6 separate regions of the Homo sapiens genome follow, and all the other regions are reported to be linked to region 3. Evidence: microRNA targets listed by miRTarBase, many of them from high-throughput screens and not tested one by one. Region 3 holds a microRNA gene; each other region holds the end of a gene's coding sequence.
The links. Region 3 holds the annotated microRNA hsa-miR-4436b-3p (CAGGGCAGGAAGAAGUGGACAA, at 1,280-1,301, shown strand). A microRNA usually pairs through its seed, bases 2 to 8, with sites in the 3' UTR of a target mRNA and lowers its output. Matches are read on the target gene's strand: a 7mer-m8 pairs with bases 2 to 8, a 7mer-A1 pairs with bases 2 to 7 and ends in A, and an 8mer does both.

Region 1 (4,086 bases), not on the chromosome of region 3:
GGGCAACATAGTGAGACCTTGTCTTTACAAAAAAAAAAAGGGTCAAGCGCAGTGGCTCACGACTGTAATCCCAGCACTTTGGGAGGCTGAGGTGGGTGGATAACGAGATTGGGAGTTCGAGAACAGCCTGGCTAAGGTGGTGAAACGTCGTCTGTACTAAAAATACAAAAATTAGCCAGGCACAGTGGCAGGCACCTGTTATCCCGGCTACTCAGGAGGCCGAGGCAGGAGAATTGCTTGAACCTGGGAGGCGGAGGTTGCAGTGAGCCAAGATCACGCCACTGCACTCTAGCCTGGGTGACAGAGAACACTCTGTCTCAGAAAAAAAATACGTATTTTGTGTACCACATACAATCACATTATCTGTAAAATTCATTTGACAATTTGATTTTATATGTCTCTTTTTTTGAGACTCCCTCTGTCGCCCAGGCTAGAGTGCAGTGTCATGATCACGGCTCACGACAGCCTTGACCTCCTGGGCTCAAGAGATCCGCCCACCTCAGCCGTCGAGCAGGGGATGCTACAGGCATGCACCAACATGCCCAGCTAATTTTTGTTTTTGTTTTAGAGATGAGGTTTCACCATGTTGCCCAGGCTGGTCTCGAACTTCTGGGCTCAAGCGATCTTCCCAAAGTGCTGGGATTACAGGCATGAGCCACTGTACCTGGCTGTTACATTTTTAAAAGATTATTACTTATTTTTTTAGAGACAGAGTTTCACCCTGTCGCCCGGGCTGGAGTGTAATGGCGCAATCGGGCTCCCTGCAACCTCCGCCTCCCAGGTTCAAGAGATTCTTGTACCTCAGCCTCCCAAGTAGCTGGGATTACAGACATGTGCCAGAACGCCCGGCTAATTTTTTGTATCTTTGGTAGAGATGGGGGTTTCACCACGCTGGTCAGGCTGATCTCGAACTCATGACCTCGTGATCCGCCCGCCTCAGCCTCCCAAAGTGCTGGGATTACAGGTGTGAGCCACCACGCCCGGCCTACATTTTTGTATTTGTTAATGAGACAGGGTCTTGCCATGTTGCCCAGGCTCGTCTTAACTCCCAGGCTCAGGCAATCTTCCTGCCTTAGCCTTCCAAAGTGCTGGGATTACAGGCCACTGTGCCCAGCCCTATATATATAAAAATATTTATATATATATATATATTTTGAGATGGAGTCTTGCTCTGTCGCCCAGGCTGGAGTGCAGTGGCGTGATCTCAGCTCACCGCAAGCTCCGCCTCCTGGGTTCACACCATTCTCTTGCCTCAGCCTCCCGAGTAGCTGGGATTACAGGCGTGAGCCACCGTGCCCAGCCCCAGCCCTATTTATATTTTGTAAGAAAAGATAAAACAGGGGCCGGGTGCGGTGGCTCATGCCTGTAATCACAGCACTTTGGGAGGCCGAGGCGGGCAGATCATGAGGTCAGGAGATCGAGACCATCCTGGCTAACACAGTGAAACCCCGTCTCTACTAAAAATACAAAAAATTAGCTGGGCGTGGTGGCAGGCGCCTGTAGTCCCAGCTACTCGGGAGGCTGAGGCAGGAGAATGGTGTGAACCCGGGTGGCGGAGCTTGCGGTGAGCCGAGATCCCGCCACTGCCAGCCTGGGTGACAGAGCGAGACTCCGTCTCAAAAAAAACAAAAACAAAACATAGAACAGTAGAACTTGTATTATAGTCTCATCCATGACACCTGGAGCCCCTGTGAGAAATGAGGGGAATCACTCCGGGAAATAAACAGATCTGTGGCTGCCAGGGCCCGAGGGGAGGGGAAGAAATGGTGAATGATGCTAACTGGACATGAGGTTTCCATTTGGGATAATAAAAAAGTTCGGAGCTGGACTGTGAGGACTGCCCAGCACTGTGAATGTACTCAGTACTCAGTACCACTGAAATGCACACTTCACAATGGTGACAAAAGTAACTCTTGGCCAGGTGCAGTGGCTCACACATGTAATCCCAGCACTTTGGGAGCCTAAGGGGTTCGAAACCAGCCTGGCCAACATGGTGAAACCCCACCTCTACTAAAATTACAAAAATTAGTCAGACGTGGTGGTGCACGTCTGTAATCCCAGCTACTTGGGAGGCAGAGGTTGCAGTGAGTTGAGAACACACCACTGTACTCCAGCCTGCTGGGTGACAGAGTGAGACTCTGTCTCAAAAAACAAACAAACAAAAACCTTTTATGTTACGTGTATTTTACCACAAGGGGGGAAAAAAAGAACTCATGAATCCCTCCGAACTACATGGACCTGTGGAAAACACATCCATGGGCTGCATTTGGTGTACACAGGGATGGAATTTGGTTTTGTTTTTTGAGATGGAGTCTCGCTCCGTCACCCAGGCTGGAGCGCAGTGGCGCAGTCTTGGCTCACTGCAACCTCCACCTCCCAGGTTCGAGCAATGCTCGTCTCAGCCTCCCAAGTAGCTGGGACTAAAGGCGCCTGCCACCATGCCTGGCTAATTTTTGTATTTTTAGTAGAGATGGGGTCTCATTTTGCTGGTCAGGCTGGTCTTGAACTCCTGAGCTCAGATGATCCACCCACCTCAGCCTCCCAAAGTGCTAAGATTACAGGCGGGAGCCACTGCGCCTGGCCTGGTTTTTATGTTTTAATTTAAAAATATTGTTTAGATAGAGATAGGGTCTTGCTGTGTTGCCCAGGCTGGTCTCAAACTCCTAGCCTCAAGTGATCCTCCTGCCTCGGCCTCCCAAAGTGCTGGGATAAGAAGTATGAGCCACCACGCCCAGCGAGAAGCATAATTTGAACTACGTGACAGCTTCAAAGGGAGGCTAGAAATCACTGTCATGAAGTCCACACTGTGGGAGTGAAAGGATGGGCAGGCCCAGCCCACAGTGACCCCACAAGCACTCAGCCACCACCCCCACCCCGGCCCGCAACCTTCAAGAAGGAAGCACTCAGATACCAACAGGACATATTTCAAATAGTTTAATTTTAAAAATATTCTATTCAGTGCTAAAATATGTCTTCACTCACTGTTGCCCATTTCCATTTTCTTAAACTTTTTTGAAACAAAAAATAAAATCACAAAGTTCAATTCAACATGCAGATTTCAAAGAAAAGGGAGCTTTCTAGAAACTGAGCTGAAGGGGTACTGTGGGGGATGGGTACTGTTGTCAGAACCTCAAATTCTTGCTGGGGCAGTTTGTGACAAGAGGCAGGGATGCTGGAATGACAGGTAGAGGTGAGAACAAAGCTGCGTGTGTGCAGATGTGTGTGCTGAGGGCAGGGGATGGGGACGGCGGCCACAAAGGGCTGTCAGCAGCTAGGGTGCCCGTGAGAGGTAGGACCACCTCAGGCATGGGCAGAGCTGGCAGGACAGCAAGAAATCTAGACGGACTCTCTGCCCTTGTGTGGAGAAAAGCCCTTCCCTTCCCTCCAATGTCTCTACCCAGTCCTCCAACAGCAGCCTACAGGGCCCCCAGTCCTAGGGGAAAGTCCGGGAGTCTACAGTCTCCGTTCAAGTTCAAGTAACCTGAGGCACGCTCTCTTCTAGAAGGTGCCTTCCACATCTCTCTCTTCTCGCAGAAGCTGCCAGCAGCTCCGTCCAGAGATTCTGGAGCAGAGACTGCTGCCTGGAGGTCACAGATGAATCTTGGGGTGGCCGATGCTCCAGCCAACTTGGGGTGCAAAAAAGACATGAGCGCTCCTCTTCTCGGGAGCAAGTAGACACAGGTGCCAGGGTCAGGAAGATGATGCTACAGCCCCAAGTCCTACGCCAGCCTTCCAGCCCGGAAGGCTCATGTGTGCAGGCTCTTGACCCCAGTGCTTGCCCTTACCCCAGCAACGCGGCGCGGCCAGAACCAGAATGCAATAAATAGAGGCAGGGCCAGGAGGCGGAGGGCCGGGATGGTGCTAGCTTTCTGACGCCGTCTGCGGCACTGTGGGTTGGTCCACACAGAAGCGCTTCAGGGGCGGGGCACCTGAGTCTTCCTCTTCCTCAACGACCTAGGAGCAGGCAGAGCATGGAATGCCAGGGCCACCCCTCCCAACCAGAACCTTCCCACCCACCCGAATTATAATGGGATGTCCACTCTGCTCCTTCCAGCAGATGATCAAACATCCTCCCCTGCCTACAAC
Region 2 (4,086 bases), not on the chromosome of region 3:
GATGAGTTCACAAGCAATCAGTGCTGGAAGGATGTGCAAAATAAAAGTTAAGAGAAGCTGAGGATATAGAAGGCATCCTGAAAGTAAAACAGCTGAGGACCACAAAGCATATCATGGAAAATCTGTTAAGCAGGGGAGGTCAGGTAGGAGAGGAAAGAATAGTCCCTCCCAAAGGAAGCAGTTAAATAAGTCTGTGGGAGGTCAGTGGTAAAAGGAAGTGGGAATGAAGTGAACAGAGAGTGCAGCTAGGCCTTCCCCTAGGAGATAGCTACTGAGTGTCTTTTAAGCCAGACTCTATTAACAGGGAAGGGAAGTGGGAGGTCCATTGGCCTTTGTGAACTATGAGCATAAACACAAACCAAGAATGACGATAACTTACAGGGTTAAATTCTGGTTCTTCAATAATTCTATTCCCTTTACCAACAATTGATTCAAAAATAGACATGTGACCCAATTTTAGGCCACGAGACAACAAACTGGGTGGCTTCTGGAAAACAGCTTCCCAAAAAGGTAAGACCAAGTTCCCTTCCATTTCAGCCGCTTAAGTTAGCACTTTCTGCTAAATGCAGCTAAACGTGTTCTAACTAGTTAAATGGCACAGAACAATGGATCTGTTTACTTGTAATAAAGTCAGGAAAGAAACATGGAATATGTAAAAGCACAGGAAATTCAAATCATGCTATGACAGCCAAACCAGTAAAGTCTTAGAGTTAATGAGGAGAAAGCCTTTAGCTGTACCTCCACAGTGGCCATACCCTAGGCAGCATTCCCAATACCAAACATACCCCTCTCCCAGAACTGCTAAGTCTAAGCCCAGAGGAGAAAGGGAAAGGTAGGGTAATTCTCTCCTCAAGGAGACCAGGGGTCCCTGGACCAAGCCATGGGGAGGGTGCTAAATGATGGACACAAAGCCTATTCACAGAACATCCTGAGGCCTTAGGATGAACTGGATTTCAGCAACCTTCTCTCCCCAACATTCTGGCAGTGCTAAATGCTTGCTCAATGAAAGTGAATTTTGGCAAGAAGAGTCCCCAGAAACCCAATATGTTCTGGCTGGAGAACAAACCTTCCTGGAAATCCCGTAGCTCAGAAAGCCAATGTTTCCCTGTTCCCCTGCAGGGTTGGGGCAGGCTCTAGACCACGGCCTCTATCATGAATGCACCAGTGGTATCAAGGCCGATATTCTGAAAAGTAACTAGCATACCAGGCTTCAGGAGCTTACCTTCCAGGTCTGGGGACAGTGACAAGCCCAAGCTCCAGGAAGACTATCAAAGGGAAACAACTGCTATTAGGGCAGCAGGAGAAACAAGCACTGGAGAGAGGCTGAGTATGTGAATAATCCCACACTGTGATCACTCATGACCTGCTAAAAGCTCTGGCTTGCCTCATTTGAAGAAATAATCAAATTCTGTCTTGCTGCAAACCTATTCTTCCTGATTTTCTCAGGGACTACTCCATCCATACTGAAATAATGTTTGACTTCTTCCCAAGAGCAAGTTAGTTAACAAGTTTAAGATTTCTCCCCCATACTTACATGTCCATACCCTCCCTTCTGCCCATATTCTTTAATTATTTAATTTTTATTTCTTGGAGACAGGGTCTCACTCTGTCACCCAGGCTGGAGTGCAGTGGCCCATCTTAGCTCACTGCAGCCTGGACCTCCCAGGCTCAAGCAGTCCTCACCTCAGCCTCCCGAACAGCTGGGACTGCAGGCATGCACCACCATGCCCACCTAATTTTTTAAATTTTTTTGTAGAGATTGGGCCTCGCTATGTTGTCCAGGCTGGTCTCGAACTCCTGAGCTCAGGCGATCTTCCTGCCTTGACCTCCCAAAGTGCTGGGATTACAGGTGTGAGCTACTGGGCCCAGCCCCCTCCGTCCATATTGTTACCCACCACACCAAGATTTTCATCAACCAGTTTCACATAATCAGAGCAATCCCCTTAAATTCCTATATTCCTAGTCCCCCAAATATCTGATTATGTCCTTAGCATCCTCTCAAGTAGTCCTGACACCAAGCCTCCTCCTAAACCGCCCACCTCCATATATACACATATGTGAACACACAAACCTGCTTTGATCACACCAGTTGCCTCACTTGCAATGCACCTTCGCCCAAGTTATTGGCTGAAGCCAGGACTTTCATGGGGATTCAAGCAGAAAGTCTGGGTTATGGGAAAGAAGGCATTTAGTTGGCCGGGCACGGTGGCTCACACCTGTAATCCCAGCACTCTGGGAGGCTGAGGCAGGCGGATCACCTGAGGTCAGGAATTCAAGACCAGCCTGACCAACATGGAGAAACCCCATCTCTACTAAAAATACAAAATTAGCGGGGCATGGTGGTACCTGCCTGTAATCCCAGCTAATCAGGAGGCTGACACAGGAGAATCGCTTGAACCCGGGAGGCGGAGGTTGCGGTGAGCCGAGATCATGCCATTGCACTCCAGCCTGGGCAGCAAGAGCGAAACTCCATCTCAAAAAAAAAAAAAGAAAAAGAAAAAGAAAAAAGCATTTTAGTGGCCCAGGTGGCAACATAGTTCAGCTCAACATTCAACCCAACACTGATGATGTACAGCTGTGCTCTGCATAGGGCAGACAGCCCAGTAAAAGGCTCGGTGCAACAAAAGCCAAGAGTCATTGAGTACTTACAAATTGCTTAGCACAGTATTTGACATATAAGTACCATCTCCCTCCATTACTAACAATCACCACCGCAGAAAGTAAGTGCTATTACTATCCCCATGTTACATGAGGAAACTGAGGCTCATAAAGGTTGGGTAATTTGTTCAGGGCTCCACAGCTAACTAGAGGTGGACCTGCAATTTCAAACCCTGATCTGCCTGGTCGGAGTACTTAATTACATGATCTCCCAAAATAGGTTAGCCTTGCGGGGAGTGATCAATTAACTTACATAAAGTCCTTCCTCTCTCCAGTATCATGTGGGAAAGACTACTTGAAAGGACTGAAAGCCATATCTAGTTTGGAAGGGGTTCCCATAAGTAAACATCAAGTAAGATGCAGCATGTCATATTTTTATCCATTTCACACTCAAGATGAAGTTCCCAAGGATCCCTTCTGTAGCTGCTTCACCGTATATACCCTTCCTCATTCAGCCCATCCCAAAACAAATTCTGACAATGACACATGAGCTGCATGTAGCTGACCAGCCTACCAGATCTTTTATGCAGTTCGACATACAAGGTGACACCAAGGTAAGACAAATGAAGTTCCAGTTTGGGTGCCTCCATCTCCCTCCCCTGGATCCTGATCCAGTGACTGCCAAAACCAGAAAGAACTGGGGTAGGGTGCTTGATCATGGGGAACGCTGTTGTGGTTCGTCCGGCAGATGGGAAAAGGGAAAGGTTTCACTTCTTCACAATTTGAATGACATCCTCATCCTCCAACGTATGGTCTTTACCCACTTTCTGAGGATTGTGTTTCACAGAGAGACCCCAGACCAGAGCACTGCATGGAAGGGAAAAAGAACAGTCAGTGTAAATAATAACCTAGCTTCTGCCCTATTTGCCTGGATGCCACCCTTCTGCTCAGATTTAGTATCATACCCTTAAGAACCATAGACCTACAAAAGCTTTATCTTCCCTAGCAGCATGAGACACTGAAGCCTTAACATAAAAGCCGGTAAAGACTTCTGGAAGTTGTGTGGTTCCTCTTATTGCAGAAAGTCAAAGACAAAAAACATGTTTAGTATAAAGAGCCTAGTTTAAAATTAAAAGAAAGCATGGATTTGTTATAGAGAAATACTCTGGGCCGGGCGCAGGGGCTCATGCCTGTAATCCCACCACTTTGGGAGGCCGAAGGGTGCGGATCACCTGAGATCAGGCGTTCAAGAAAAGCCTGGCCAACATGGTGAAACCCCGTCTCCACTAAAAATACAAAAATTAGCTGGGCATGGTGGCGGGTGCCTGTAATCCCAACTACTCGGGAGGCTGAGGCAGAAGAATGGCTTGAACCCGGGAGGCGGAGGTTGCAGTGAGCCAAGATCATGCCGTTGCACTCCAGGTTGGGCAACGAGCGAAACTCCGCCTCAAAAAAAAAAAAAAAAATCCGTCTTTAATCTTCATAGAG
Region 3 (4,086 bases):
TCACCTGATTGATGTGGCCATGCGTGGCTCTGCTCTGCATTTCCAGGACAGCCTGTACCACGGGACCACTGGCATCCTGTACATGAGCGCTGCCGTCCTACAAGTACATGCCACGATTGTTTCTGAGAAACTGCTGGACCCAAGAATTTACTACATTAATTCGGCAGCCTCGGTGAGTGGGCTGGCCAAGGACAGCAGTCTTGCCTGGAGGATGTTTCGTGCAGGAGGCCTAACTTTGCTTGTGCTGTATAGACCCTGAGCCCTCAAGTGGAAGGAGCCATGGGGGCAGGGGATAGGGATGTGTGTCCCTGTAAACATGTGCACCCACGTTCAGGGGTCCTCTTTTACCTTCTATTGTTCCCACTCCAGCTTTCCTCTCTCTTAGACACCCCCCACGCTGTCTGCAGAATTTTCTTTTTCCAAAACACAAATTGGAACAGATGTCTCTCTCCTACTGAAAATCCTTCAATGGCACCCACTGCCTTTGGAATGGGGCCCGCATCCCTCGGCATGGCTGAACTATTGAGAGATGAAGCAGGGAAGGGGAAAGTGGAATGTCGAGGTCTCAGGGGAGGAGGCATCAGGGAAGGCCCTGTCAAGAGGACAGAAGGAGGCAGGGGCCACCAGGCAGTTACCCCTGCTAAGGTCCCACCAGGCAGTTACCCCTGCCAAGGACCCTCTGTGTGCTCAAGGGCAGCCAGGAGGGTGGTGTAGCTGGGACAGCTGGCCATGGAGGATTGCAGGGGCCGTTGCTGGTCTTGCAAGTTTAGGAAGTTAAACTCACCTGATGAGGAGGGAAGGGAGGCAGACAGGCCAGAAGGCAGCTGAAATATCTTGTGGCCACCCCAGAGGGTCACAGTGCACTCCACAGTGGGTGGCATTTACCTCCATCTAACCCATGTATGTGCTACTCATCTATCTTGCTGCTATCTGCTTCTTATCTCTCAAATGTAAGCTCCATGAGGGCAGGAATTTTTGAATATTTTCTTCACTGTTATACCCACAGTTGCTCTTGAAGGAAAGCAGGTCCTTAAAAGATATTTGTTGACTGACTGACTGAATGAGGAGCGTGTGAGTGGACAGTGGGGCAGAGTGGGGCTGGGATGTTTGGCAGGGCCTGAAAGGTATTGAAGGTGACGGCCCTACCCTGAGAAAAGAGCAGAGCCATCATACAGCTTCAACGTGGGGCAACGGGATTGTGTTCTCCCCATGAGTGAGAAGTGTCCTCACTTGTCCACTTCTGCCTGCCCTGCCCAAATGGTGGAGCAGATTCGAGGGGCAGGGCAGGAAGAAGTGGACAAGTGAGGCCATGAGGAGTCCTGCCGAGGGATGCCGGTGGCTGAGACAAGGGAAAAATGAATGTCCCAAGAGCTAGGCAGGGAAATCAGTAGCCTTTGGGGTGGCTTTGCATATGGCTGGCAAGGGAGGCAGGAGGAGCCAGGGGCCACAGGGGTCAGGCTCAGGGAGTGGGGCGAGAGGAGGACCCTGGGGCCCACTGGGCTTGTCAGGCTTGTGAGGAAACGTCAGGGGCTCAGTGTGAGCCAGGAAGAGCTGGAGGATGTCTGAACATTCACGAGGAGCTGATAAGCAGCCGCTCAGGGCAGAGTTCTGGGCCAGCGAGGGGAGCTGTAGGAGTGTTCAGAACACAGATTTGCTGGAGGTGGGCAGAGGAGAGCGGGCCTCGGGCAGGAGGTCAGCGTGGGATATGGGCCCAGAGCTGTGGTGGAGGTGAGCCTGCTTCACAGCCAGGTGCAGATGAGGTGGAGACTGCAGTCGGGGCAGGACACCAGGACGGCCCCAGGGAGGCCCTGATGGAGAGTTTCCAGAAGAGGGAGTTGTTGGCCAGGGGTTGCTGCCCTCAGGCCACGCAGGAGGCGAGGAGGCAGGGTCATGCGTGGCCTCCTGGGCAGTGGGGCTGAGGGTACCTGAGGGGTGGGCAGGAGCTGGCGCTGCTGTCTCTAACAGTCACTCTCCACCTCCTTCCAGTTCTTCGCCTTCATCGCCACGCTGCTCTACATTCTCCATGCCTTCAGCATCTATTACCACTGATGCACAGGCGCCAGGCCAAGGGGGAAATGCTCTTTGAAAGCTCCAATTATTGGTCCCCAAAAGCAGCTTCCAACGTTTGCCATCTGGATGACAAACGGAAGATCCACTAAAACGTCCACGGGATTAACAGAACGTCCTTGCAGACTGAGCGATGACACCACACTTTGTTTGGACATTTAAATTCACTCTGCTGAATAGGAGGAAGCTTTTCTTTTTCCTGGGAAAACAACTGTCTCTTGGAATTATCTGACCATGAACTTGCTCTTCTAGACAACTCACATCAAAGCCCTCACTCCACTAATGGAGAATCCTAGCCCCACTAATGCCAAGTCTGTTTGGGGATTTTGCCTCAGCTATGGGCTTCCCTAGAGTAGGTCTAGGGGAATACTCAGTCTGATCTTTTTTTTGTTTGTTTTATTTTGTTTTTTTTGAGACGGAGTCTCGCTCTTCCTCCAAGGCTGGAGTGCAGTGACGCGATCTCCACTCACTGCAGGCTCCGCCTCCCGGGTTCCCGCCATTCTCCTGCCTCAGCCTCCCGAGTAGCCGGGACTACAGGCGCCCACCACCGTGCCCGGCTAATTTAGTTGTATTTTTAGTAGAGATGGGGTTTCACCGTATTAGCCAGGATGGTCTCGATCTCCTGACCTCGTGATCCGCCCGCCTCGGCCTCCCAAAGTGCTGGGATTACAGGCGTGAGCCACCGCGCCCGGCCTGATTCTCTTAAAATTGAAGAGGTGCTGCCAAGGCCTTCAGATCTAACGCAGATGCATAGACCTTGTTCCTGGTACTTGTTCAGCCTGTGCTGGGGAGCCGTGGTCCCGAGTTCCCTGGGAGGCTGACAGGGTCAAGCCACCCTGCCCACCACCCTCCCACTTCCCCTCCCCTTTCCTCTCCAGCATTAGGATTCAAGGGAAATTTGCATGAAGCCAATTTTGAGGGTAGACGTGTGGGGAAAATAAATCATTATACAGTAAGACCTGGGGCTTGAGGGGTGGGGAATGGGGAGGGAAGGGCATAGCCTGCTCCTCCATGAGTCTGACATCTCGGAAACTGAGCAGCTGCCGGACGCCTGGGTCAGGAATCCAAGACCCCACCTCTTAAGGACTGGTTCCTCAGAAAGCACCCTCAGGGAAAAAGGTGAAAACATTACATCCGTGGATTCTCCTGCCACAACCGCATTGGAAGAAAAGGCTGCCGCAACATCTCAGCGAGGAGTGAAGGACCCATGTCCCAGGAACCGCGCTGCGCCACCTGCACTCACCCCCCTCACATTCTCTTAAGCACCCGGTGGCCCTCCGAGGCCTGGCGGAATGGTGGTGCCCACGGGGTTGGGCAAGGGCTCACCAGGACCTCAACGGGCAAAGTTGTGCACACTAAAATATCAAATCAAGGTGCTTGGTTTTAAAGTAAATGTTTTTCTAAAGAAAGCTGTGCTCTTCTGTTGACCCAGACGAATAGGGCACAGCCCTGTAACTGCACGTGCCTTCTGTCATTGGGAATGAAATAAATTATTACGAGAAAGGGACTTGTCCTAACTGGTTTGAGGCCTTACAGTTTTGTATCTACATTTTTCCCCTCCTGGGGTTTGCGGGGACAGGGACAGAACTACAGGAGTCATGGGAAAGAAAATTCTGGCTTCACTACTGCTCACTGCTCACTTTCTGATCACTCTGATACTTTTTTTTTTTTTTTTTTTTTTGCAACCTGATACCTTGAAAAGCTTCTATGTGTCTCTCCTTTTGTTGCCTGGCAGCTGTCTAGGATGATCACTGATTACTATTTACTAAGTAGCCACATGCAAATAAAAGTTGTTTGGTAAAAAGGAGCAGTTGGTCGACTTCATCTTGTTAGCATCTGGAACTGGCCATCAGGTACTAGGTGTTGTCAGTAATTTCAAGAAAAGCACCCCTTGGAGCATTTCACAACCTAAGTTCTCTGAGGGTGGGATCCCAGCCCACCCGGCCTTGCTTCTAGAGCAAGAGCGAAGGGAGGTCACATTTGTCTCCAGGGCTTCGGGTTTATAATGTCATTTGTACT
Region 4 (4,082 bases), not on the chromosome of region 3:
CACACAGGAGAAAAATCTTACATATGCAGCGAATGTGGAAAAGGCTTCACTGTCAAACGCACTCTCGTTATACATCAGCGAACTCATACAGGAGAGAAATCTTACATATGCAATGAATGTGGTAAAGGCTTCACCACAAAGCGCACTCTTATTATACATCAGCGAACTCATACAGGAGAAAAACCCTATGAATGCAATGAATGTGGTAAAGCCTTCAGCCAGAAAATATGCCTCATACAACATGAGAGATGTCATACAGGAAAGACTCCCTTTGTATGTACCGAGTGCGGAAAATCCTATTCACACAAATATGGCCTCATTACCCATCAGAGAATTCACACAGGAGAGAAACCTTATGAGTGCAATGAATGTGGAAAAGCCTTCACCACAAAGTCAGTACTCAATGTACATCAAAGAACGCATACAGGAGAGAGGCCGTATGGATGCAGTGATTGTGAGAAAGCCTTCTCCCACTTATCAAACCTTGTCAAACATAAGAAAATGCACACAAGAGAAATGGGTAGAATCAGTCAAGTTGAAAACTCCTGTAATGGAGAGTCACAGCTCCTTCCTTATAAGTGAACTCATGCAGAAGAAAACCCTACTAGTGCCGTGACTATGGAAATGCCTTTTGTGGCAACTCAGACTTCATTAAACATCAGTGTGTTTCTAGCCAATTGGAACATAAACATGGTGCTGCCTGTTGACAGATGTGTGTCTGTCCTCAGGAGGTGAAATAATTTGCCCTAGAGATCAATTTGATGAATACAGTAAATAAGGTAGTGCCTTTAGTGGTCTTTTACCTCATATTTTCTGTCAATGAAAATACGTTGAATAAACTATATTAATGTGGAGATGTTTTGAGCAATAATTTCTGCTCATATGTCTGAAAAGTATACAGAGATAAATTCTGTGAATACAAAGACTAAGAAAAGTCTTCTGTGGAAAGATAGACTTTATTATCAGGTTTCATCATAGATTTCAACGTAAGTGAGCTTATTGTTGATAGAAACATGATGACCATGACAAAGTCTTTACTCAGAAATATGACCTCAGTGAGTGTCAAAGTTTACACTGGAAAATAACTTTAAGGTGACAGTATTGATGGCAGGATTTCAGCGACGCACTCTGCTTCATCATTTGTCAGGAGATCACATAGAAAGTAAAATTGTTCCGAACATGCTATCAAATAAATGTGGAACACCTTTAGCAAACTATCAACAGCTCATGAAGGCATGAAATGTGGTGAAAATGATGAATATTTGAGTGCTTTTTCTTAATAAGTATAACCTTAAACATCAGCTAATACACCTGGTGTGCATTTTCAGTCAGGATACCTTAATCCTCATTTCTAGTTGCCTTGCCAATGATTCCATAATATACTGTCTCATTACTGTTTATTTTTACTGTTGTGTAAAATTGTGGTATAATGAGAAATACATTTGGTCTTTGTTCCTGGTTCCTGGCATAGAGCTCCTAAAACGCTTAGAATTTCATGAGTGATAAGAGTTTTTTGGTTTTGTTTTGTTTTTGCTGTTGTTGTTATTCATAGCACTGCCCTTTTAATTACACCTGATTATACTACTGAAGTGACTTATGGTTGCTCCCCTAGACAGCCTCAGAATGGGGCTGTTCTCTAGGAAGATCAAGTAACTAGAGGATGGAGACTTTGTGCCCCATTTCTCCCACCTCCTGGAAGGGGAGGGGTGCTGGAGATTAGATTAGACAATGAGATTAAGAGAACTCCAAATAGCCCAAGAGGGTGGTGCACCCCCAACTTCATAGGGGTAGAGGCTCCTGAGATTAGGAGAACCCTTTTTAGGCTTTACTCTATGTACCTCTTCATTTGAGTGTTCATTTGCGTCCTTTATAACCAGTAAAACAAAGTACGCTGTTTTCTTGAGTTTTGTGAGCCCTGTAGCAAATTATCAAACCTGAGTAGGGCAGTGGGAACTCGGAATTTATCACCATTCAGAACTGCAGGTTGTCCTTGTGAGTGGCATCTGATGTGGGGGAAGTCTTGGACTGAGCCCCTTAACTTGTGGAGTCTGCACTAATTTAGACTGCACTAACTAACTTGCACTGCACTAACTTGGACTGCACTAACTTGTGGAGTCTGCACTAACTTGGAGAAGTTAGTGTCAGAATTGAATTATAGAACACCCAGTTGTTCAGAATTGAATTGTAGAACACCCAATTGGTGTGGGAGAATTAGAGAATTTATTTGTGTCAGAAAATACTCCAGAACAACCACCCCATATTATGATTAGCTCTTTTCCTTTCTTTGGCTCTGAGCTTAATTGTACATTAAGCAAACTTAAGTAGAAAAGAAACTGAATATGTTAAATATATTAACAACATATTTGGACTTGCTTAACTAAGATTATAGAGATGATCAGTTTATAAAACCACCTTCAACTTAAATAAATTTGAACTCGAAATTGCAAAAGCAGTCTAGAGGCTTTGCTAGTATCCTTCAACCAATTTCTAGTAAAAATATCCTATATAACCATAATTATCAAAACCAGAAAAACAACATTGGTAGGATACTATAAAGTACTAATCTTATTTTGGATTTGACGAATTTTTACATGTTTTTTTCTTTTTTAGTTTGTACTCTAAGAAGTTGTATTACATGTACAGATTCGTGTAACCACTGCAACCACATAAAACTAATGAACACAAAGTCCCTCATGCTACCTTTTTATGCTTACACTCCATCCAAACCTAACTCTGCCAACCACTTTTCTCCTATCAGTATAATTTCATCATTTCATGAATATGATAAAAATAAAATTGTTTTTGTAAATGGTTTTTATAAATTTTATATAAATAAGTTATATGAATTTTTATTGATAGAGAGTATGTAAGCTTTTGGCATTTTTGTCACTCAGCAAATTACTCCTAAGGTTTATATGAGTTGATGAATAGTTGTTTTATTATTTTTTTTTACCACCATGTATCTAACCAGATGAAAGTTGTTTATATTTGAGAGTAGTATACATATTTGATGTAGTAGTTTATCCATTCACCTATGAGATATATTTGCACTGTTTTCCTGGTTTTAAGTGCTATAAATAAAGATGCTGTGAAATCTACATACAGCTTTTGCTTTTGCTTTTTTTTTTTTAGGATTTACAATCTTAACCTCTTTTTTTTCTTTTTTAAGAGACAGGGTCTCTTGAGAGGCCGAGGCAGGCGGATCACTTGAGGTCAGAAGTTCAAGACCAGCCTGGCCAACGTGGCGAAACCCTGTGTCTACTAAAAATACACACAAAAAATTAGCTGGGTATGGTGCTGGGCTGTTGGGAGCCGAAGGCCCATGGGATGTGACCAACTCAGCATTCCACTGGAGGCTATATGATCAAACAGCAAACTTTATCATGAATGCACGATGTGGGCAAACTCATGACTGCTTCCGCTGCCAGAAGGTTTGCTGAGGGCAATCGCTTCCTGGTGCTGAGCTCCTTGAGGTTATCTACTGGGACATCTAGAGAATGCCATCTTGCAAACCCTACTCTGGACTGAGTAGCTGACCCCTTCTTCCACCCGCCTTCTCACTATCTCTTTTGCCTAATAAATATGGAGGGCTGTGTAAAGCTCAGGGCCCTTGTCCACTAGAGGCAAGGTGTCCCCTGATCCCTTCTTCCAAATATACTCTTTTGTCTCTTTTATTCCCGTTTCCCCCACTTTTTTCAGTCCCCCTAGGTCCTTGTGGGTTACGTAGTGGCGCCCCAAACAGTGACAGGATCGGGCGCTCTACAGTTGGCGCCTGTAATCCCAATTACTTGTGAGGCTGAGGCAGGAATCACTTGAACCTGGGAGGCAGAGGTTGCAGTGAGCTGAGATCCTGCCACTGCACTCCAGGCCTGGGCAACGGAATAGGCTCTGTCTGAAAAACAAACAAAAACAACAAAAAAAAGAGTCTCTGTTGCCTAGGCTGGAGTGCAGTGGTGCGATTATAGCTCACTGCAGCCTCAAACTCCTGGGTTCAAGTGTTCCTCCTGCGTCAGCCTCCCATGTAGGTGGGACTATGTGTGTGCACCCTCATGCCTGGCTTTTTTTTTTTTTTTTTTTTTTTT
Region 5 (4,086 bases), not on the chromosome of region 3:
AGTAGCTGGGGTTACAGGCGCACACCACCATGTCCGGCTAATTTTGTAGTTTTAGCAGAGACGGGGTTTTGCCCTGTTGGCCAGGCTGGTCTCGAACTCTTGGCCTCAAGTGATCCACCCACCTCGGCCTCCCAAAGTGCTGGAATTACAGGCTGAGCTACCACGCCTGGACAATTTCTTAAAAAATTTTTTTAAAGTAGGATTGATAGCAGATGAGTTTTCTCGGTGGGCCAGGTCCTCTGCTAGGGATTTCAATGGAATGATCCCATTTAAACCCACTACAACCTCATGGGGCTCTTATTGTCCTCGTCTTGTGGGGGCAGAGAGGAAAAGTCCCCAGCATGCAGAGTGTTGGAATCTGGATTTGTACACAAAGCCACGACTCTGAATTGTTCAAATCCCAAGACTCTCTTCCCCATCTCTGACTCTGTCCCCCAACTCTTCACTCTCTCTGGATCTCTGTCTAATCCCACTCCAGTGTCCTGACCCTCCTCGAGCTCAACCTTTCCTCCTCCTGCTAGGACCCTGCCCCCTCATCCCTGTGCCCTTCTGTCTGGGTCTCTGTCCCCTTGTCTGGGTGTCTGTCACCCTCCGCTCTCTGGTTCCTCGCCTTCCCGTCTCTAATCTCACAGGGCTGATGTGGACGCTGCTGTATGGGGGGAACACCTGCCCTGCTCACAGGGCTCTGCCACTTTTCCCTTCCAGGAGGGCATCCTGGCTGTTTCACCCGTGGACTTGAACTTGCCATTGGACTGAGCTCTTTCTCAGAAGCTGCTACAAGATGACACCTCATGTCCCTGCCCTCTTCGTGTGCTTTTCCAAGTCTTCCTATTCCACTCAGGGCTGTGGGGTGGTGGTTGCCCTACCTGTTTTTGCCAAAAATAAATTGTTTAAAACTTTTCTTATTAAAAACGTTACAAAGTATTCAATTGTCTGTTCTTACACTTGGGAACTAAAGTTTTAAGGAGAGGAGATTTGGTTCAGAGATTTCTGTGGCTTACGCAAATTGAGGAAAGAACCAGTTCATTCATTCTAGAAATATTTATTTGCAGCACCTACAAGAGCCTGTCTCCTGGACATGTAACATATTTGAGAGAATACCTGTAAATATTCCAGCAACTTGCATTTTTTTTTCCTATTGCACGATCTGGTTATTCTAGCTAATGCTGTATGATGGTCATGGAGTCTTTCCAGTGAATTCCACAGAAAGGTACAGTCTAACTTCACCTGTGTCTAGGACACCACCCTCTTCTTGTTTTTCTCCTCCCATTGCTCCTTTCAAGTCTCTCTTGCTGGTTTCTCATCTACCTACAGACCAGTGGTTTGTCTCACACACACCCCCCACTCTCCCTTTTTTTTTGGAGATAGGGTCTTGCTCTGTTGCCTATACTTGCACTGTTATATAGATACAGTGGCACTATCATGGCTCACTGCAGCCTCAACCTCCTGGGCTCAAGTGATCCTCCCACTTCAGCCTCTCTAGTAGCTGGAACTAAAGGCATGCGACACGACGCCTAGCTAATTTTTAAAAAAGAATTTTTATGGGAGGCCAAGGCAGGTGGATCACTTGAGGTCAGGAGTTCAAGACCAGCCAGGCCAACATGGTGAAACCCCATCTCTACTAAAAATACAAAAATTAGCCGGGCATGGTGGTGGGTGCCTGTAATCCCAGCTACTTGGGTGGCTGAGGCACGAGACTCGCTTGAACCCGGGAGGCAAGAGGTTGCAGTGAGTTGAGATCACGCCACTGCACTCCAGCCTGGGCAACAGAGCGAGACTCCGTCTCAAAAAAAAAAAAATTGTAGAAATGGGGTCTCCCTTATGTTGCCCAGGCTGGTCTCCACCTCCTGGGCTCAAGTGATCCTCCTACCTTGGCATCCCAAAGTCCTGGGATCACAGGCATGAGTCACTGTGCCTGGGCGGTTTGTCTCCTTTATAGGGCCATATCCCCCTTCACAGAGTAATGTTTGTAAATTAATAAGTGAAATGTACAGGATTACAAACCGAACCAATTACAGTTGATCCTCAGTATTTGTAGATTATTTGCAAATTTGCATCCTTGCTACAATGTATTCATACCCCAAAAATTAAGGCAGTGCTTTTGTGGTGTTTTGGAGGGCAATGCTTATGCACAGAGCTGCAACAAGCTAAAGACCTGATGTGCATATTTGCAGCTGGGCTCCTCTTGCTTCAGCTCAAACACTGGAAACAAATGTCCTTTTCTTGGTTTGTTTAGTGCCATGCTTTTCAATTTTTTTTTTTTTTTTTAAAGTTAGAGTCTCGGTCTGTCGCTCGAGCTGGAGTGCAATGGCTTCATCCTGGCTCACTGCAACCTCCACCTCCTGAGCTCAAGCGATTCTCCTGCCTCAGCCTCCCAAGTAGCTGGGATTACAGGCGTGTGCCACCAGTCCTGGCTAATTTTTTTATTTTTATTTTTATTTATTTTATTATTTTTTGAGATGGAGTCTCGCTGTGTCGCCTAGGCTGGAGTGCAGTGGCACCATCTCAGCTCACTGCAACCTCTGCCTCCCGGGTTCACGTGATTCTCCTGCCTCAGCCTCTGGAGCAGCTGGGACTACAGGCGCCCACCACCACACCCGGCTAATTTTTGTTTTTTTAGTAGAGACGGGGGTTTCACCATATTGGCTAGGCTGGTCTCGAACTCCTGAGCTTGTGATCCGCCCACCTCAGCCTTCCAAAATGCTGGGATTACAGGCGTGAGTCACCGCGCCCGGCCAAATTTTTTTTTTTTTTTTTTTTGAGACAAGAGTCTCGCTCTGTCACCCAGGCTGGAGTGCAGTGGCGCGATCTCAGCTCACTGCAAGCTCCGCCTCCCGGGTTCACGCCATCCTCCTGCCTAAGCCTCCACGCCCGGCTAATTTTTTGTATTTTTAGTAGAGACGGGGGTTTCACCATGTTAGCCAGGATGGTCTCGACCTCCTGACCTTGTGATCCGCCCGCCTCGGTCTCCCAAAATGCTGGGATTACAGGCGTGAGCCACCGCGCCCGGCCGCCTGGCGTAATTTTTGTATTTTTAATAGAAATGGGGGTTTCACCATGTTGCCCAGACTGGTCTCGAACTCCTGATGTCAAGTGATCCGCCTGCCTCCGCCTCCTAAAGTGCTGGAATTACACCCGTGAGCCATCGCGCCCGAACCCTATTGTAAATTTTAAGTCTCAGGCGTTTGCCAGCGGCACGCCAGAGAGTATAGCCTGCGCGGAGGCCCAGAAACCAAAGAGCGAGCTCATTCCGGGATTGGAGAGAAGTGTGAGCAGAGGGAAGTAGAGGGATCGGGGAGAGGAGGGGCAGGACCCACGCATTCGGCCCTTTGCATTCAGCTTCATTCAACTAGGAACTTTTTCTGCAAATCAAGGAAAGCTTCCCGGAGGAAGTGGTGCCTAAGCTGTGCTCTGATTCACGTTTAGAAGCTGACCAGACAAAGAGAGGTGGGCGTTCCTGGCAGGGGGAGGGACTTGGCAAAAACCAAGTGGCTTGAGAGGGGTTGATGGTTTTAAAAAACTTGGAATGATTATGTCAAGGGCTAGGGATTTAATGTGTTGACGACGGACTCCTATTCCTCACTTGCTTCGGGACCCCAGCTATGCCCTTCCTCTCTCTGGGCCTCTCACCGATTCCGTTTTTCCCCCAGGTAATGAGCACAAGCTCCCTTTTTCCTCCAGACTCCCCCCGGGTTGGGAGGATCCACCGAGTGGACGAGGAGTGATAATTCCTTTGAGCCAATCGTTGGTGCCTGAAGCCCCGCCTTCTTCCCTACCCGTGGGCCAATTGCCGTGTTCTCCTTGAGGCCGGCCGCTTGGCGAGGGTGGGCCAAAGGCTGCGTGACGTCGCTTCCGGATAAACCAATGGCAGCGATTAGGAGGCGGGTCGTTTTGGTGATGGACAGGTGTTTCAAGACGCCCCTTTAGCGCGGGGCTCCCCGGGAAGCTTTGAGGCGGTGCTGGGTGTAAAGGGGAGGGCATTCCTGGTGGATTTTGCCCAATCACCAGTCGCGCTTCTTGCAATAGACGGGCAGTTTTCCCCATCCCGGGTCGACTTGAGGGGGCGGGATTCTGGACGCCAGAGTT
Region 6 (4,072 bases), not on the chromosome of region 3:
ACCCGCGACCTGCTGCGGAGCCGTGGCATTGCCGGTCTCTACAAGGGACTCGGGGCCACGCTGCTCAGGTAGGAGGCACAGGGCAGGTGGGGGGAGGGAAGGGGGAGGCCGGCCTGCCCACCCCACCACCTCCTGTCCCCACGGCCACCTCCCTCCCCACAGGGATGTCCCCTTCTCTGTGGTGTACTTCCCGCTCTTTGCCAACCTGAACCAGCTGGGCCGCCCGGCGTCCGAGGAGAAGTCGCCTTTCTACGTGTCCTTCCTGGCCGGCTGTGTGGCTGGGAGTGCCGCCGCTGTGGCCGTCAACCCCTGTGATGGTCAGTGCATGGGATGGCGCCCGGCTGGGGATGGGGCGGGACTGAGCCCTTGGCCAGGCTCACACTGACCCGAGCGCCCCTTGCAGTGGTGAAGACGCGGCTCCAGTCACTTCAGCGAGGCGTCAACGAGGACACCTACTCTGGGATCCTGGACTGTGCCAGGTGGGGAGGTCCCACGGCGGGTGGGGCCTGGGGGCCTGCGTACCGGGCTGACCCTTTCGTCCTTCCTCCACAGGAAGATCCTGCGGCACGAGGGCCCCTCGGCCTTCCTGAAGGGCGCCTACTGCCGCGCGCTGGTCATCGCGCCCCTTTTCGGCATCGCACAGGTGGTCTACTTCCTGGGCATCGCGGAGTCCCTGCTGGGGCTGCTGCAGGACCCCCAGGCCTGAGCCCAGCACCCGCTCCACCCCAGCCAGCTGGGCAGGGCCGGTGTGGGGCTGGAGCCAGGCAGCTAGCCCAGGACGGAGCAAGGGAAGACCCCTCCCCAGCCCTCCCGTCGGCAGGGGCAGCAGGGGGCAGGGTGCAGGGTCCACATAGGTGGTGCACACGCAAGCCCCCCGGGGTGCTGCCTGCACCGTTGGGATCAATGTCTCATTTATGTAGAAAATGCAGAAATCTTTACATTCCTCAAGCTAGCCCCTGCCCCAATCCTGCCCTGGCCTGAACACCCCCAGGGACAGAGCTGGTCTCTGGGCTGGGGGCCCCCGGGCCTGGGCCGGGCAGGCTGGACCATACCCCCAGTCCACCAGCTCCAGTCTCCACAGCCATCCTGGCCCACACAGGCACCCCACACAAACCTATTTATTGAATCTGCTGGACCCAAGCGGCTCTCCAGCCCTTCCGTCCTTCCCCAGCCGCTCTTGTCGCCTTGGCAGGACTTGACTCTGCCTCCCTGGCCAGCCTTGCAAGAGGACTGGGGTCTCCTGCCCTCTCTGTTGAGCCAGGAATCCCAAGTGAGGGGTTGCCCTGAGGTCTGACTCTTGGGGCAAGCCCGCCACCCACTGTGGGACTTTCTGGTGGGCTCCTCAGCTCCCACCCCAGGCTGGGGCCCAGATTGTGAGGTCTGTGTGCATGTGTGTGTGTATGTGTGTGTGCATGCGTGTGTGTGTTGTGGGGATCTGGCCTGGCCCTTGGGGATGGGGCTGCTGGGGACTGCCCCCCTTCCCGCCGTGGCCAGGCGCTCTGTGTGCTGTGTGTGCCCCAGGCTCTGTTGACCCCGTCCAGGAACTAACTTACCCAGCTTGGTCTCTCCTGAGTCCTCCACCCTGGCCTGGGATTGGCCAGGGAGCAGGGCGGGCATTGGGACCAGTGTGGAGCCTGAGGGTGCCTGCCCTGCTCTGGAGGGAGGGCCAGGAGCTGCCACACCCCCAAGTCCTCTCAGGGCCCACCCTCCTTTTTCAGCCTCTGCATAAGGCCCCTGGGTACACTGCAGAAGCCCCATCCTTCCCGCCTCCGGGCATAAGGCCCCTGACCACACTTCAGAAGCCCCATCCCCCCTGCCACCGGGCGATCCCTGCTGTGAGCCGAAGCTCTCCCTGCCCCGCCCTGGCCATGTGATCGTGTTGGTGACAGACCCTGATGTGCTGGTGCTGTGTCCCCAAAACCGGGGCCCTCCACAGAGGCCCCTTCCCAGCGACACTACCTGGGGCTCAGGCCTGGACCCCCCCAGTTCACGGTTGCTCCTGGGAGCTGCCCCTCCCGTCACATCAGAACCTTGGAAGCTGCTGCTGCTGCTTACAGAATTATATTTTTTTCTTTTGAAGAGTTTTAAGAAGTTGTAACTTTTTGTGTCTTGTCATGTCAGAGAATAAATAAATATTCTAAGTAGATGCTGCTGTCTGTCTGGGGGTCTGTTTGGGGGCGGGGGAGGGCAGTCCCCTCTTCCCATAACTGGCTCCCTTCAGACTGCAGGGCTAGGCCTGCGCACCCACCCACCGACCCCTCACCCACCGACCCGTCACCCACCGACCAAGGGGCACCCTGGCCTAGAGGGGATGCTGAGCGGGACCCGCCTCCTGCCTCTGGCAGTCCCAGATGGGACTTGGACCCCGCAGTTGCTCTCTCGGACCCTAAGTTTCTACCCCTGGATCTAAGGCGGAGCTGGGTTTGCGGATCCCACGGTTCCCGGCGGGGCGGGGCCCGGTCGCCCCTCCCCCTCCCCGCCCTCCTGCGCCGGGAGCAGTGCATTGTGGGAAACTCCCGAGCTCTCCTCCGCGTTCGCAGCCGCCGTCATCCCGCGGAGGAGCGCGCAGCCCCGGGGAGGCCGGAGGACGCGTAAGGCGGGGGGCTCCCGGCGGGCGGGGCGGGCGGGGCGGGCGCGGCGTCCTGCGGGGCGAGGAGGCGGCTCCGGGCCTTGAAGGTCACTGGGTTTGCGCGCGGGCCCCCCAGTTCTCCAGGGCTCAGTTGATCCCGGGAGAGGGAGGCGGCGGCCGGGATGTAAGTGCCACAAATAGCGAGGTTGGGGGGGCAGACCACCTGCTCTTTGCAAACTTGATGCCCAGCAGCTGAGCCCCCCGAGAACTGCAGGGGTGAAGGGACGGCTGGGCTTCCCTGGGAGGTGGCAGCAGCTGGGCCTCTTCTGGAGACGCCCTCATCATGCTGTGACCTTCGGGTGACCTTCAGTGTGGTCAATGCACCTGGCGGGGGGTGGGGAACGTGCCTCCCTTTCTCTGCAGGTCTGGAGGGCATTTCTCATCCTTCCCTGGGAGAGGCAGACAGGCGGCCTCTGGGGCTTTGGGGCAAGACCCACTCAGGTTCAGGGCGGCTGGGCCCCCAGGGCCCTTCCCACCTCTGCCTCGGTCATTGAGAATCTGGGCACCGCCTTTCCCACAGCCCAGAACCCTGTCCTCCGCCCTGACCCGCGGGCCAAGTGCAGCATGTGCCCACCCTGTTTAACGCCAGGAACCCTCTGCCCACAGAGACAGCACAGCCTTGGGCTGGGCGAGGACTCCCTGCTCCAGGGCTGGAGGCAGGCACGGCCCATGCTGAGGAGGGGGCCCCAGAGGCTGGGGAGGGGCAGACGGCCCTTGGAAGCACAGCCCCACGCTGACTTCCTGGAGAGACACCCCAGTTTTCTCAAGTCTGGGTTCTTGTGGGCCCACCCACCCTGATGGCTGCCTGAGATCCCAGCTCCTGCCCCTCCCCGCCCTCCTCCCCCTGGGACCCTGGCCAGGTCACAGCCTCCGTGCTTTAGTGTCCATCTCTGCAAAGCAGGAATGCTCTCCTGAGGAGGGGATGCAGTCAGCTCTCCCACTGGGGCTCCGATCACCTCCTTGGAGGGGAGAATGCTCTTCCTTCGAGTTCTCTGGGCCTGATCCTTACTTCCCCACCAAGAGCCTCCTGCCCCCGGCTGGTGGGAGGATGTGGCATTTGCATGGGCCATTTTATGGAGCACAGTGGGGTCCCCTACCTCCTCCCACCTGTGCGTGGCCCTTGCCTCTGCGGCTGGAGGGGCCCCTTGAGGAGTGGTCATGGACAGATGGAGTCCAGGCCGTGAAAGAGAAGTGTCAGAGGCCCACGGGAGGCCCCTGAGCTGGGGCTCCAGAGAGTCCAGAGAACTGGGCAGGGGCTGCCTGGGGACCAGGTGGTCGGGGCAGCACAGGGGGGACTGGACCCGCGCGCAGCCTCCCTTGTGTCTCCCTCCAGGCCCATAGAATGCCCAGGGGCGACAAACTGTCCTGAGCCCCTCTGGTGCAGCCACCTGCCTGTCCCATACGCCCCGCCCACCATGGAGTCCAGAGGGAAGTCAGCCAGCA

Region 1: the mRNA of BCL7B is a reported target of hsa-miR-4436b-3p. Seed matches in the 3' UTR shown: 7mer-m8 at 3,229-3,235.
Region 2: miRTarBase lists DRG1 as a target of hsa-miR-4436b-3p. The part of its 3' UTR that is shown has no 7-base or 8-base seed match.
Region 4: miRTarBase lists ZNF614 as a target of hsa-miR-4436b-3p. Seed matches in the 3' UTR shown: 7mer-A1 at 743-749 and 7mer-m8 at 1,555-1,561.
Region 5: miRTarBase lists BCL2L12 as a target of hsa-miR-4436b-3p. Seed matches in the 3' UTR shown: 7mer-m8 at 798-804 and 7mer-A1 at 859-865.
Region 6: the mRNA of SLC25A22 is a reported target of hsa-miR-4436b-3p. Seed matches in the 3' UTR shown: 7mer-m8 at 968-974, 7mer-m8 at 1,241-1,247 and 7mer-m8 at 1,645-1,651.

The regions. Positions count from the first base shown.
Region 1 is chr7:73,533,437-73,537,522 of GRCh38, forward strand. It overlaps BCL7B (BAF chromatin remodeling complex subunit BCL7B), which reads right to left. Exons shown (of 6, transcript NM_001707.4): 6 at 2,920-3,954. The coding sequence ends at 3,862. Among named protein-coding and RNA genes, the nearest start is that of BAZ1B, 13 kb to the left of the region's middle.
Region 2 is chr22:31,433,251-31,437,336 of GRCh38, reverse strand. It overlaps DRG1 (developmentally regulated GTP binding protein 1), which reads right to left. Exons shown (of 9, transcript NM_004147.4): 9 at 2,885-3,465. The coding sequence ends at 3,366. It also overlaps a transcript of EIF4ENIF1 not described here. Among named protein-coding and RNA genes, the nearest start is that of DRG1, 36 kb to the right of the region's middle.
Region 3 is chr2:110,083,658-110,087,743 of GRCh38, reverse strand. It overlaps MIR4436B1 (microRNA 4436b-1), which reads left to right and starts at 1,221; the gene lies at 1,221-1,311. MALL (mal, T cell differentiation protein like) reads left to right here. Exons shown (of 4, transcript NM_005434.5): 3 at 47-172; 4 at 1,987-3,874. The coding sequence ends at 2,049.
Region 4 is chr19:52,012,340-52,016,421 of GRCh38, reverse strand. ZNF614 (zinc finger protein 614) reads left to right here. Exons shown (of 5, transcript NM_025040.4): 5 at 1-3,098. The coding sequence ends at 582. The region is part of intron 1 of LOC124904755 (a long non-coding RNA gene); the gene reads right to left. Among named protein-coding and RNA genes, the nearest start is that of ZNF615, 6.2 kb to the right of the region's middle.
Region 5 is chr19:49,672,993-49,677,078 of GRCh38, forward strand. BCL2L12 (BCL2 like 12) reads left to right here. Exons shown (of 7, transcript NM_138639.2): 7 at 706-924. The coding sequence ends at 756. It also overlaps a transcript of PRMT1 not described here. Among named protein-coding and RNA genes, the nearest start is that of PRMT1, 2.2 kb to the right of the region's middle. RefSeq lists enhancers at 3,764-3,913, 3,918-4,086.
Region 6 is chr11:788,549-792,620 of GRCh38, reverse strand. It overlaps SLC25A22 (solute carrier family 25 member 22), which reads left to right. Exons shown (of 10, transcript NM_001191061.2): 7 at 1-68; 8 at 163-317; 9 at 404-479; 10 at 553-2,146. The coding sequence ends at 706. It overlaps CEND1 (cell cycle exit and neuronal differentiation 1), which reads left to right and starts at 2,531. Exons shown (of 2, transcript NM_016564.4): 1 at 2,531-2,591; 2 at 3,963-4,072. The coding sequence starts at 4,045. RefSeq lists a silencer at 2,391-2,620.